Linked DNA regions of Homo sapiens. The protein of the gene in region 4 interacts with the protein of the main gene of each other region in a biochemical or structural test. Each region holds a gene or a part of one and is shown on either strand. Other genes may lie near its edges.

Region 1 (4,162 bases), on a different chromosome or scaffold from region 4:
TGCAGTGGCACGATCTCAGCTCACTGCAAGCTCCGCCTCCCAGGCTCACGCCATTCTCCTGCCTCAGCCTCCCAAGTAGCGGGGACTACAGGCGGCCGCCACCACGCCTGGCTAATTTTTTGTATTTTTTAGTAGAGACGGGGTTTCACCGTGTTAGCCAGGATGGTCTCGATCTCCTGACCTCATGATTCGCCCGCTTTGGCCTTCCAAAGTGCTGGGATTACAGGTGTGAGCCACAGCGCCCAGCCTCATTTGGTCATTCTTAACTGTGAGCGAGACTGGGGAAGTTTGTATCTGGCTTTTCATCCCCCCTGGTGAGCTGTATCCAGCAGGGACTCAGGCTGGCTTTGTGGGTGTCACAGGGCTCTAGCTGCACTTCTAGTGAATTTAATCTCCAGGATTTGAGTTGACTGTGTGATACTTTCCCAAGCAACTAGGATTGTTCCCCAAACCTGTGATTCTCATTTCTGCCCACACGAGGGCTTTGGAAAAGCCCCAAGAGGCTCAGGCCCAACCCAGTGGCTTTTATTTAATTTTCTGGGATGGAGCCCCATCCTTGTATTTTTCAAATGCTGTCCATTTAATTCTAATGAAAAGTTGGGGTTCTGAATTTTAAAAAAAATGTTGTGATGGTTAACACTGAGTGTCAACTTGATTGGATTGAAGGATACAAAGTATTGATCCTGGGTGTATCTGTGAGGGTGTTGTCAAAGGAGATTAACATTTGAGTCAGTGAGGTGGGGAAGGTAGACCCGCCCTCAATCTGGGTGGGCACCATCTAATCAGCTGCCGGCTCAGCTAGAATATAAGTGGGCAGAAAAATGTGAAAAGAGAGACTGGCTTAGCCTCCCAGCCCACATCTTTTCTCACGTGCTGGATGCTTCCTATCCTCAAACATTGGACTCCCAAGTTCTTCAGTTTTGGAACTTGGACTGGCTCTCCTTGCTTCTCAGCCTGCAGATGGCCTATTGTGGGACCTTGTGATCATGTGAGTTAATACTTAATAAACTCTTCTTTATATATATATTTAATATTTACATATTATATATTAAATATATATTATATATTATATATAATATATATTTATATTATATATAAATATATTTAATATTTATATTTAATAAACTCATATATATATATTCCATTAGTTCTGTCCCTCTAGAGAACCCTAATACAAATGTTTTTTCTTCTTTGCTTTCCATTCAATCTTGAAAATAATGACAGTTCAGAGTAAGATAAAATAGTTACCTGTTCCAGCCCTACAAATTTAAAGTGATTTGACCTAATCCTAAAATAATGTTCTTCTTCTGTCCCAGCCTTAGGAAATTAACAGTATCAGCTATGAATATACGAATGTACTGACCAAGCATCTTCAGTGTGATGTCTAGTCCGTTTGATAATTATGGTTTATTATGAATTACTATATTTGTATGCATGTTCTATTTCTCAGTCTTTTAATAATATTACTAGCAGCATTTATCAAGTGCCTTCTGAGTTTGTTTAGATTGAGAGCCTCTCTGAGGTCCTGTCTTCTCTCTGAGGGACGGGAGTTGCTCAGGACCTGCAGCGCTGGGGTCCAGACCCTGGCAGTTGCCAATGTGCTGCCACACCCATGGCCCGGCTGGGCAGCCTCGAAGCTGCCTCAGGCAGCTCCTGCCACATCCACAAACCCAAGCGGGAGCACAGCCCGGGACAGGAAACACAGGGCACGTCCAGATGCTGCTGCTTCACAGACACCAAGGGCGTGGTTTGTGGAAAAGGCCTAGTTTTAGGAAGGTCTTTTCCCTCTGATCATCCAGGAACTCCAGATTAAATGTAACAGAAAACCTTTATACAACAATTGTCAGTTCTTGTTCCATTTGTGCTTTCTTGAGGATTACACGTGCATCTCCCTGAAATTGTTTAATCTCTTGGGACCAAGAGACACTGACTCATCTTGTTGTTGTTATTACTAATAGGTGTAATTTACATACATACATATGTACATTTACATAATTTACACAGTAAAAAAACTCTTCATCCCCCTCACCACATTTCTTAGTCTTATTTCTCTTGTGATCTGAGTTTGCTGTCATTCTCTTGGCCTCAGTTCTTCCTACCACATCTGCTCTGAGAGGAAACACTATGTGACTGTTTAAAATCTGTTCTTTTTTTATGATCCCAAGAAGAAAGAGAAAAAAACAAAGATCTGTAGGAAGAAAAAAGGGTGAGGACAGAACTTCTGCAGAAATAAATATTGTTACAATAACACAAATTGTAAACTTTAGGATAGGTACTGACCGTGTAGTTGATCTTTATTGAACCAGTTGGTTTGAAATACTTAGAATGCTGTCAGCTTTAAGGTTTTACAGTGGAAATTCTTTCCTTAAATTGGCTTTTGGACATGGATCACAGGTAGAGTGAACCAATTCCAGAAAATGTGATCTACATTCACATTTGTCAGTATTTTCTTTTTCTATGACATGCATAATTATCATATCACAGGCATCAGTGACTTGCTGCCTCTACCTGGGATTCTCCTTACCTGGGAAAGTTGTAACCTCGAGGCCCGTGATGTCCTAAAGTGGACTGTCATTAGCTTGGTGGAGGTACTTGAAGAGCAAGCAGACACTGGAGGGTGGGGAAACCAAGCATCCGGAGGCACTCATCTTGCTCCGTTGTTTTACCCGACAGTGAAGTGGCTCTCCCAAGCCCCTGTCCTCCTGCGTTCCATTTTGTGGTGCCTATAGCCTGCAAGATGCCATATGCTTCCTGTTCCCAACCACCCAGGTCTGCCCGTGATCATCCCACTTCGAACTTTGAATCCTTCTTATATGTTGTTCTTTAAAGTCTTACTGATTATTCCCTGTGGTCTTTTTTTTTTTTTTCACTAGCCCTTCTGTTGTCTTAAGTTATGGCTGTGTCTTGGCTATTTACATAGTAACTTCCTCATCATTTTTTCATCTCCACTATCTTGTCCTCTAATGGTCTTGAACACCGTGAGAGTGTTGAATGAAGACCCTTTTGTAGACAGTGGCCAGCATTGTTTCTGTGTCTGTGCATGTGGTCGTGACTTAGCTTTTGGGCATATGATAATCATCAGGAACTGAGTTGTACGTCTCTTCAGTGTCCTCTGTATATCATGTTGATTACAGTTCTCAGTTGTAATATCTAATATCTAAGATTTAAGATTTAATATCTCCTTAGCCCGGGTCCCTTGTGAGTTCCAAGTGCTGCTCTGAGCTGATAACCAGTCACGTCCTAGACACCCTGGCCTGGAAACTAGGACATCTGCCTCGGGCCTGTTATGGCCAAGGCTGCTAACACTGAGAAACAGTCTTAGCTTGTTACAGCGTTGACGTATAGGGTTAGAAAGGCAAATATTTAAATTCATTTTAAATCCTTTCATTTGAAATTTTAGTAGGTCATTTTGGTATACTGATGGACTGAGTTTGGAAAAGGCTGGCGGCATTAAACTAGAATATTTTAAGTACTTCTGATGCCTTTGTACTGATTTCTTTTTTGTAATCAAACCCATTAATAGACTTAAAACTCAAGGAAGAAAAAATAATACTTGTAATTTTAAATAAGCATTCAATTATAAGTAAAAAACATTTTTGTATTCGTTACCATAGTTACCAAGCAGCTTTCCTATAGTTCTAGAAAAAAATGGGCTCCATCATTCAGAGTAATTCTGAAAGGTGCCTTTGGGGGAAAGGGAGAGGAAGGGGTGGTACAGGAGAGGTCCTGGCCGTCCCAGAAGCAGGAGACATAACTGGAAGAGCTTTGTTGACGCTGAGTTTTACAGAATCTCCCACTAAATAGTAACTGCATTTGTGAGGGGAATTCTCTTTTAGCCGTGACATAATATAAGCCAACTTAACAGAGTATTGGAATTGTATTCAAACTTTAGAAGTCGACGCTATAGTTTACATGGGGTACTACTATATTTGTTCAGGGTTTTAAAACTTTATTTAAATCAAGCAAAAGTTAGACACTTCCTGTATTTGCAAATACCAACTATATCTCAAAGGAATGAAATCAGGCAAATAAAGATGAGGCCAAAATTTAAAATCTAAGGAAGCTGAAAGTGGCAGTTTCTGTACTGGAAGAGAGTGCATCTATCTCTGTATTTGTGCTTTTGGTCTTAATAGTTTGTAAGCCTTATGTAGAGTTTTGATAA
Region 2 (3,500 bases), on a different chromosome or scaffold from region 4:
ATGCCTGTTACTGTATTGAGGATAGACAGAACTACACTATTGTACTTGGGACATCATCCATCAACATTACATTAAGAGAACAACATTGTTCCATTGTACTACAGACAGGCAGACCAATAACATGTCATCTTTACTGACAGGTGAGCCAACACTATAGCATTGTATTCATCAGTGGTTCAACCTAATGCCACTGTACTGAGGAATGGCCAACAACACCATGCTGTTGGACTAAAAGCAGGCAGGACAATGCCAGGTCATCAAACGAGGACAGGAAAACCAACACCAAGAAATACACCAGAACCACTCAGGATGCACACAAATACTTATTGCTTTTGTCTGTACTGGCTGCATCGATGGCTGCAGGAAGGAGAGTTGAGCTTTTAGTACAGACAGTGACACTGAAAAACCAATAGCTGGTTGACAAGAAAGAGAACAGAGTAAAACACCCAATGTCCAACTGTCACTGTGTCCTTTTGAGATGTGCATGTCTCCTGTATACTTGACTTCATGAGAGGCCCCACCCAAGGGGCAAGAACCCCTCCTGACCCATGAGGGTTAAGGGAAGGTTTCAGAGGGGCAGGGAAGGAGCCCACAGACTTTGATATGGCAGACAGTAATACCAGCACAATATTACCCATGCTGGCCAGAAATGGGCAGGTAGCAACAATCCAACTACAGTCCCAACAATTGGGCTATGGGAAATAGTGCTTATTTTAAAGTGCAAGATGTTGACACTGTCCCTGGCAGAACCTATTTTTGAAAAACATAAAGTGCTTTTTATTTTAACTTTTTTTTTTTTAACTTGAAAACCACAGAAAACAAAACAGAATTTCTATTATAGTAGGTACTTTCCTTGCTGCAGCAGGAATTATTCAGTCTGAACTGGGCATTTCAATGCGTGGTATTTTTTTCCTTTCATTTTTGCAAGTAAAAAAATCATATTTTTATGCTGTTCTTCAGTAACACACAGTCTCTTTGAATAAACTATTTCTTTTGCATATTTGACACTTGCATATCTTTTGAGTCTACACTAGTGATGTAAAGAAAGCGTGTTCCTCCTCCAACCCTAAAACAATGCTCTGAGTTCATGCTGTTGGCTGGGTGCCCACCTTCTGAACCCTTCCCAGATTGCCAGGGGGCAATTAGAATTGAGTACAAGTGGTGCAACTCACCCTGATGGTATCTCAAAATAAAATCTCAGGTACTATGAAATACCGAAGTCAATGAAGACATTTGAGTAAGGGTTTTGCGCTGGGATCGTGGCTTATGGCGCAGAGACTTCCCCATGACCAATCATTCCCTGTAGCTGTCTAACAGTGGAATCCATCCAGGAGGTGATGGACAGGTGTTCCTAGGGGTGGCTGGGCAACATTCAATACCAAATTGGTCAACCCACTCTTTCAACACCAGCCGCTTGTTCCAGCATCCTTCTCTAGCTGAAGCCAGGAGGACTGTCAATGTTGCCCTCCGAGGCTGAGATGGAAAGCCACGAGAGAATGGGGAGTATGTGGCCTCGGTCCTGTCTAAAGTGGTGGTAGTGGTGGCTGTGAGTTCCACTCATGTCATCTCCCAAAGAGGGCTATAGAGTTGTTACAAGGAGGTGCTGTGCCCTATGGCTTGGCCAACTTCATGCTGATGGACCTGTCATGGCTCTCAAGGTCTTAGGGAGCCTTCTCTGGAGTCTCTCTTCTCTCTGAGGGCTTTACAGGGCCTTTCTGTTCCAGAGTTCATGCAGAAAAGCTCTGTGGCAGGTAAGCTGAACAGCTCTCCTCTTTGGACCTCACCCAAAAGTCTCTCCTCCAAGGCAGGGCAGTTCAGATGCTCTGATCTCGTGTGCTTCCATGGGCTCCTCCCCCTGGCAACACACGGACGTCAGGGGAGATGTGGTTCTCAAGTTTGCACTTTTCCTGACCACTGGGGCCTTTTCCAGTCAATGCTTCTGTGGAGTAAATACAGTTCTGCCTTAAGAACTTAGGGGAGGTGGGTAAAGGGGAGCTTTCAAAGTGGTTTTTCTCCGATCTTGTCCCCGTGCTGAACTTCGGACTGGTGCTCCCAGGGAGGCTTTTGGGGGGGCTGGAGTCCACACTGTAGAGCAGCTGTCCCTCATCATCTGTGTCTGCGTCAATGTACTGGTGGACACCCGCCTCAAAGTTGAACGCTATTGCTGTGTGTTTCTCAGGAGACCGGGGGGGTGTCTTAGCACTTGCTGTGGTGTAGATGGAGGACTCTGGGCTCAGCACAGCCTTGTCCAAAAGCGTGGCACACTCCAGTCCAGCGACAGCAGCCGCAGCACTCCCCCGGTTCCTGAGAGGGTCATGGTACATCCCTAGAACGGGGAGGAGTGGACTGGGGTCACCCTCCATGAAGTTGACTTTAAGTGCTCGGAGCTTCAAAGGGTTGTTAGTTTTCATGGAACTCTTGGGGCTCTCGATGAAGAAACTAGAGTGCTGGCTGGCATCAGGGCTGGGGTTGGCCTCCACAAACCTACCACCACTGGCACCCAGAGCTCCCCGCCAGCCCACTTCTGGGGCTGTGCTGCCCCCAGTCTTGCTGGGGAGTGATGTCAAAGGGCTGTGGGAGAATCTGGTGGCCTCAGGGAAGTCTGTGGCACAGCTAATGAAACTATCAATGCTTGACATACTTCGCATGTCAATGACCCCTTCTGTGCGAGTGGGCAGAGGGGCTACGGGGCTGGGGATACTCTCCATTTCAAGTTCTTCCTTTGGTTTGCTCTGTGCTGCTGACTCCTTGGTATTGAGGATGGGTTGGGATTGGGTCTTGGCCATCTTATTGTACATGTCTTCCAACTGCTGAACGTTCAGGTGCTGAGGACTAGAAGACGATCTGGCTTTTTCAGGGGATCCCTGTTCCTTGGTTTCAAAGGACTTACTTGAGCTGGTTTCAGACAGTGTCCTCTTTGTCCATTTCCATTTGTTAGGAGACAAGTGGTTATCTTGTACTTTGTCTTTCTTACCCATATTCTCCCCATTTTTCTCAACCACAATGTCCATCATCTCAATGCTCCGGGCAAAAGCATCCTTCATGTTCATGGATACGATGCTGCCATTCCTCTTGGCTCTCTCCAGAGCCTCTCGCCGTTTGATTGCTTTCTCCTGTCTCTTCTGCTCCTTATAGAACTCAGAGAAGTTATTGACGATGATGGGGATGGGAAGAGCAATCACCAGGACTCCTGCAATGCAGCAGAGTCCCCCAACAATTTTCCCCAGGAGAGTCTTGGGGTAGATGTCTCCATACCCAACAGTAGTCATGGTGATGGTGGCCCACCAGAAAGAGGCTGGGATGCTTTTGAACTTGGTGTCGTCCTCATCCTTCTCAGCAAAGAAGACAAGGCTGGAGAAGATCATAATGCCCATGGCAAGGAAGAGGATGAGCAAGCCCAACTCATTGTAGCTCCTCCGCAAAGTGAAGCCCAGAGACTGGAGGCCAGTGGAGTGGCGTGCAAGCTTAAGGATGCGGAGAATTCGCATGATGCGGAAGAT
Region 3 (3,500 bases), on a different chromosome or scaffold from region 4:
AATGGAGATGATGACATTTACATCATGGGCTATAGGATGACTATTGAAATTTACACACATTGTAACACATGCTGGGCACTGCAGTGTTTGCTTTATGAACATTTTCTCATTAATTTTCACAACAGTTCGGTGAAGTGGGAACTATTAATGTATTGATGTGGAAATTGGAGCTCCAAGAAATTAAGAGACTTCTCCAAGGTCACACATCTGGCAGGTTGGTTCAAGAGGCTGGATTTAAACTTCAGGAGCCTGATTCCAGACCTGGAGACTTTTAGTTGCTTGAACACAGCATGTGAAGCCCTCAGGTGCAGGCAAACAGTGCAGACCAGTGAGGCTCAGCTGCTGCTGCTGTGATTATTGTTTGAATTATTATTTTTCCCCATTCTTGTAATGTCCTAGGACATTACTGTCTGCTCCTCACAGTCAGATGGGATTATCATTGTCTTGTATCATTTTCCAATGGTTTCCAACATAGGAGGCTTTTCTGTCCCACATCTTTGTATTCTGTCAGCGGCACCATCTGCCTCCACAGAGCCCAGTGGTTCTCAGGAGTTGCTCAGTGGTTCAGGGTCTCTGGACCCTTTGCCAGTAACCAAGAAGTGAGCTGTAATTTCACCTAATAGCTCCACAGCCACCTGTCACCTCTGTTTGACTTCCCAGGCATTAGTATCATTTGAAGACGTGGTTGTGACCTTCACTGGAGAGGAATGGGGGCACCTGGACCTGGCCCAGAGGACCCTGTACCAGGAGGTGATGCTGGAGACCTGCAGGCTCCTGGTCTCACTGGGTAAGACCTCATTACCCTCCCATGTAGGGGACCCACAGCCTCTTTGAATCCACCCTTTCTAGGCATGGCTGGTCCAGGAGCCTCAGAACCCAACCTTCCCTGATCCCTGCAGCCTCAGCACGTTGTGGTCTGACCTCCTCTTGCTGGGTTTCCCTGTGTCTCAATCAAAGATTGTTATGTAAGAAACACAGTCCTCCTCAACACTTTTATCCCACTGTCTAGCACAGCTGGCCTCAGTCTGACATCTTTATCCCAGACTGCCACAAGAGGTAATTGGCCCAGCTTGGTTGAGTCAAATGTCCTCACAGCCCAGTTAGCAGGACCTGTGGATAATGGGAGGTTCTACAAGCAGCGGGTGATTGACACAGACACTAAGAAGGTGTTTGTTATCAGTGCTGCTTATATCTTTTTCAGCAACACAGTCTCAGCTGAAAGGTCTCTTTGGCTCCTAGCACCTGCACAGTTAACCCTTACTTCCTAAGGCCTGTGCCTTGCTCCTCTGCTGCTACAGGAGATGATTATGATTATGGAAAGGGAGCACAGACACATTCTCAAATGGCATGGATGTATGCTATCTGAGAAAGCTGTTCTTTTTTTCTTTTCTCTTTCCTGTCTCTTGAATGTTGAGTGTTGGCTTAGGGCTGAATCTTTAACACTCCCATAGCTGTTGGTGAATTTCCTCCTCAGTAGAAAGAGTAGCCTCAAACTCCTAGCCTCAAGCAGGCAGCAGGAACTTGCTGGGACCTGTTATCATTTTGATTTTGCCATTTTTATAGTAACCTGTCACAGCAAGGTAACTAATATGTGTAAAGTGCTTAGAATAGAGCTGGAAACATAGCAAGTGTTCTGCATGTGTTTGTTACATTTAACAAATTAATAAATACCAAATGCTCTCCCACCTAAACCTTTAATGGACAGTTTGCCCAGAAGTTGGTCTGAGTAGATATGAATGGAGGCCCAAAGTCTCACTTATTCCAGTTGTTCAAATGGTTACCATCGACAGGGCTCTCCCAGTCCTGCGTCCTCACGAGGGATGAGTCATTAATGAAGTAAACGTGGTGTTATTTTATGACAACTGTGATTAGTTGTCGAAAGGAGATGTATGGGGAACAGCATTCCAGGAGGAGGGACCAACATGAGCAGCATCCCTGTGGGAGCAGGGTGCTTGATTCCTTAACAGAGATGAAGGCAGGCCTGATTCCCCTTTAATGCTGCTCATCACCCAGCTCAGTGCCAAGCATATGGCAGAACATTTGCTGAGTGTGCATGTGGCATGTAAGTGTGCGTAATCCTATGGTGAACATTTGCTAAGTGACAGCTGGATGCGTGCCAGGACAAGATTTTCCAGTTGATGCTTCTGGGTCCTGGTGCCTCAGTCATTGACTTCTCTCCAGAGTCTTCTGTCTTAGCCTTCACAGTTGGCAAAATGTGTGTGGCTGCATGTGGAAGAAGACCACCTCCTGCCAGTTTCACCCTGAAAATAATTTCTTACTTTACCTAATGAGAAGCCCTGAGGTGCTGCTGACTCCTGGCTTGGTCAGTGCCAATCCATGCTAACCCAGTTCTCTGTCTGCTTTCTCTCCTTGGTCTAGGGCCCTGGCCAGTATCCTTGTGGGGCAGTAGGCCTCCATGTTCAGCTTCAGTCACTGGCCTGCCTCACACAACTGACTATCAATAGATGCCATTCATCAGGCGATTTAGTCCTGTGTTTTTCAACCATCATGGGCACCAAAATCACCTGGGGAGCTTTAAAAACTACCAGCACTCAGTCCTTCTGCTCAGAGATTTGGTTTAATTTGTTCTGTTTTTGGAACTGGGTGTTGCTAGGTAGTTTTGATGCACAGGGTGGTTGAATCCTACTGACTTAGGTTAATTAGGGAATACTTTTGGTGAGGCAGGGGAGGGCCCTTTCTGGGGTTTCATTGCAGTATGTTAAATATATGTACTCCTTTACACCTCAGACTTTTCTTTTTGTCTTTCCCTGTACACCATACTCCATTTGTTTCTCCATGCACAGGGCATCCTGTTCCCAAACCAGAGCTGATCTATCTACTGGAACATGGACAGGAACTGTGGACAGTGAAGAGAGGCCTCTCCCAAAGCACCTGCGCAGGTTGGTGACTGAGAGTCTGGCAGCGGGTATCAGGGCAGCCTGCAGACCACCCAGGCATCACTGTGTCTGAAATGCCATGGGCAGCTATTTTGTGGTCTTGAGCAGTCATGGAGCCCTTGACCCCATGGTCCCCCGTCTTCCCACTTCTGTCACACACTCTTTGCCTTTATTCAGGTTGGAATATGTTAGGTAGGAGACAGATTCTAGGCTTTAATGATTTGCCACTCACTAGCCTCATGACTCTGGAGAGGTTGTGTGACGTCACTGTGCCTTTGGTATATAAGTTAGGCTGAGTTAATGACCTTCTCTGAAAAATAAACTCCAAAATCATGTGACTCAACAGATTAAGTTTCGTTTTGTTTTGTTTTTTTATCCATGCCATAGCCCAATGTGGGTCAGCAGGAAAGCTGTGTACCCTGTATTTATTTATGGATCACATGCATTCTGTTGTCAATATGCAGCTTTAAGGTTGCCCCGGCCAAGAGGAATGGGAGAGAAGGGCAGTAGTCACTTCCATTAACATTTCATCCACAAGAACTGGGTATTAGGCTACATGTTGTATCAGGCTGGGAAATGTGGTTTAGCTTTTTTATACCCAAG
Region 4 (3,500 bases):
GTGAAGGAGAACATTTATTTAGCCTTGCACTGTAAAATAAATTGCATATTGTGTTCTCCAATTCCATGTTCATTAAGCCAAAGGGCAAAACATATCAGGAAAATGAATTACTTTTAATATCAAAAATATAATTGTGATCCTTAAATCATTTTTTTCTGTAGTTGAGCACACATTCTTGCCCATGATTTGCAGATAATAATGAGATGAAGAAGCCATTTAAGGAAGCATATCATCCTACCAGCTTCTATTTCTTCAGGTCCATCGTAGGATTTGTCAATGGCTGCTCTAAAGCTCTCATTGCAGCCTCGGCCTCGAACCATGTGCGGCCGGGGCCTGTGAAAGGGAAGGTCATTCTTCCTGACCTCGGCCACTGCAGTCTGCAGACTCTCCAAGGAGCTGGACTTTTTCAAACCCAGAGTTGGACCAAAATCTTTGCTTGGAGATTCTGGAAAAGAAAGGGCAAAAGGTCACCCCTCTTCTAATGGGGCAGTGTGGTGTAATGCTATTGTTCTAAGAATATTTCTGTCTGGACATCCCAAAAAAGGGGTGTTAAGTGGGTGGGAGTTGGGGTTATACTCCAGCTTTGCCACCTTTTGTAACCTTGAACAAGTGGTTTGACTTCTCTGAGCCTCTGTTTCCTTTTCTAAAGCTGTGATAAAATTTAATATGACTATAGGTACATTTCTCTCTATGCAGAAGTGTATATGCATGTGTGTCTATAGGCATATACACACACACCTATGAATTTGAAAGGCTGTAGCTATTTATAGAGACTATGTATGTGAATGAGAGTGATTTCACATATGTGAGAATACCCACATACACACATGCATACTCACAGACACACACACAAACATACCAAGCACCTAACATGACGAGAGCTTCTCTTCCAGTATCGTCCTAGCACTCCCACACCTGACAGCTTTTATCATTGCCATGGTTGCTCATATGATTAGTAAGGAACATACTGGGCATGGAAATAAAAGAACATTGAAGTGACTGTGATTTTTCTAATTAAACACTTTACCTTACCCTATTGGCTATTAATGTATGGTAACTGCCATTTATTTAATCAATCAATCAAGCAAGCAAAGCAAGAAAGAAAACAACTTTTCTGTGTCGATGCTATAGTTCTGAATGTATTCCTATTTGGTATCTAGAAAAGAGGCAACCTTTTAATGCAATATAAAATTATAAAACAGAAAATATAGAGCACAACTGAATTTGAATCATTGCTTTTCTGGTATATAATGTTTTTCATTTGTGCGGTTTGCCTTGCCCTCTACCTGCCCCCTCCCACTCCATTCCTTGACCTCCATTCCCACCCCCAGCTAGTCTCTCAATTATCAATAACAGGATTAGGTTATATAAATATTAGCAGCATTATATATATATATTATATATATATATATAATATATAATATTAGCAGGATTATCTTTAAGACAGAAGGAATTCTATCAGGGCTCTTGTCTCTACAGTCAAAGCTTTTCCACCAGGGCCACAGCTCATGTTCCTTTCCAGTTACGAAGGAGACTACTGTCATGAAGTCTACTTGCATTTCTGGGAAAAAACGACTGTGTCATTTATCAATAGACAAGAGTACCTATTAAGAATTATGTATGTAAAGTACCTACTTCAATGTCTAGCACCTAGCAAGGCTCAATAAACGGCACTATCTTTTATTACTATCATCACTATTTTTGCTTCTATTATCACTGCCACTATGAACACTACTACTAGCAGCTGCACACAGCATTAAGGAATACAAAAGAAGTACAAAAAAGCACTGATGTATATATATACCTATGTGAAGTGAAATAGCAATACACACCTTTACCTATGATCCGAACGTGTTAAAAATAGTCAACATAATGAATAATCGTAATAGCTAATAATGCATGGAGTGCTTAGTCTGTGTTAAGCACTATTCTAAATGCCTCACCCACAGTAACTTACTATAATCCTTATAGTTGTGCTACTGGTACTACTTTTAGCCCCATTTTACAGATTCAGAAATTGAGGCACACAGCATTGACATAACTTGTCTAAAGTTAAACACTTAATAAGCATCCAGACCAGGAGCTGGGCCGAGGCAGCCTAGTTCCAGCTTTTCTGCTGTGTACCATGTACTTTACTGTCTAAAGATGTATTTGCTCTGCACCCTCTATTTGATTATGGTCAAACAACTTAAACTGCCCTACATTGTCCTCATTTCTAAAATAAGAATATTAGGCTAGATTAACCCTGGAGCCTCGTCAAGTAGGCAAACTGCAAAAATTGGATGTTGCGTTATAGTTTCATCATTAACTTATAGGAGACAACTTTGCACTTTGAACAATATACAGGATGACAATAAACACTAGATTTTATAAACCCTACTGGCTATTAATGTAGGGTAAGTGCAATTCAGTATTCAGTAAATTCAACAGAGTATATTCAATAAATGCAACAGAGATAAGACTAAGCAAAAAAAAAAATACAAAAAATTTCAGGGACAAATTTCAGGTGTTACTTGCAAGTCATAAATACTGAGGATATGTCACTATTAAATCCAGAAAGAGGCATATTTTTTATATTCCCAGGAAGGAAGATAAGTTGAAGAAACAGAAATTGAATAAGATGATTTCTGACAAGAAAACAAAAGGCATCACAGAGGTTTGGGTGTATAGAAGCAATAGTAAAAGCTTTGGAGTTTACAGAAAATATTTTATAATATCAGCCCCTAGGGATGTCTGACATGAAGTTTAGTGAAAACATGAAGATGAAAACTATCTGAGAAAGCCCTGATTCTCTGTCAGCAATAGTAACCATCTTTTATTTATTAATTGCCATTCAGGAGATTACATTAGAGCCCAAACTGTAAGCATTCACGTCAACGTTTAGCAATAAATTCCAGGGAACATGAAAGTGAATAAATCGTCCAAGATAGAAGGCACGTTATCTAAAAGGAGCTCATGTGAAGCTCAGCAAGAAGTCATAGCTAAGAAGAAACAAATACACTGTTCCTCATTCTAAGCAAACTGAACATTAAGGATTCATGGATTTTGCAAGATTAATAGAGTTGGCAATTAATTCACTCTATATAAATAGAAGTCACAAAGTAGAAGTACTAACTGATGTTGGGCAATATTACAACCTAACTCTATTGGATGTAATACATGGTAATATTAAAAGCAAAAAGGGTGGTTGAGTCCTTAGGTTGTAAATGTGGACTCTGGAGTTTTCAGGATTGGAAAAAAAATTCTATTTATTCCTGGAGAATGCACAGAATGTAGCTGTAGAGTAGGGACTCATGTTAGAGAAGAGAACCAAAATCAGGAAAGTCCTTATAAGGATTTACAGGTACAGTGAACTGACTGAACTGGGGGCTCTGACAAGCACCTTCTCCAGGGATCCCCATGTCTTTCATATGTTTGAGGGCTCCTACAGAAGGTCAAGGTTACCTGCTGTGTAAGGGATTATAATGTCAATTGAAAGGCATCAGTGTTAAATTCCAACA

The links. Proteins that work in one complex are often made in the same cells at the same time.
Region 1: the proteins of PARD3B (region 4) and CLDN20 interact in a test that uses a peptide from one of them, tested with the Homo sapiens proteins (one large-scale study listed by IntAct).
Region 2: the proteins of PARD3B (region 4) and KCNB1 interact in a test that uses a peptide from one of them, tested with the Homo sapiens proteins (one large-scale study listed by IntAct).
Region 3: the proteins of PARD3B (region 4) and ZNF599 interact in a test that uses a peptide from one of them, tested with the Homo sapiens proteins (one large-scale study listed by IntAct).

Annotation. Positions count from the first base shown.
Region 1 is NC_000006.12:155,262,651-155,266,812, reverse strand, and holds the start of CLDN20 (claudin-20 precursor), read right to left. Parts: upstream 2,801-4,162; 5' UTR 2,525-2,800; intron 1-2,524. UniProt on the Homo sapiens protein: Plays a major role in tight junction-specific obliteration of the intercellular space, through calcium-independent cell-adhesion activity.
Region 2 is NC_000020.11:49,371,169-49,374,668, forward strand, and holds part of KCNB1 (potassium voltage-gated channel subfamily B member 1), read right to left. Parts: coding exon 1,815-3,500; 3' UTR 1-1,814. UniProt on the Homo sapiens protein: Voltage-gated potassium channel that mediates transmembrane potassium transport in excitable membranes, primarily in the brain, but also in the pancreas and cardiovascular system.
Region 3 is NC_000019.10:34,766,716-34,770,215, reverse strand, and holds part of ZNF599 (zinc finger protein 599), read left to right. Parts: intron 1-660; coding exon 661-787; intron 788-2,804; coding exon 2,805-2,900; intron 2,901-3,500. UniProt on the Homo sapiens protein: May be involved in transcriptional regulation.
Region 4 is NC_000002.12:205,297,475-205,300,974, reverse strand, and holds part of PARD3B (partitioning defective 3 homolog B), read right to left. Parts: intron 446-3,500; coding exon 239-445; intron 1-238. UniProt on the Homo sapiens protein: Putative adapter protein involved in asymmetrical cell division and cell polarization processes. May play a role in the formation of epithelial tight junctions.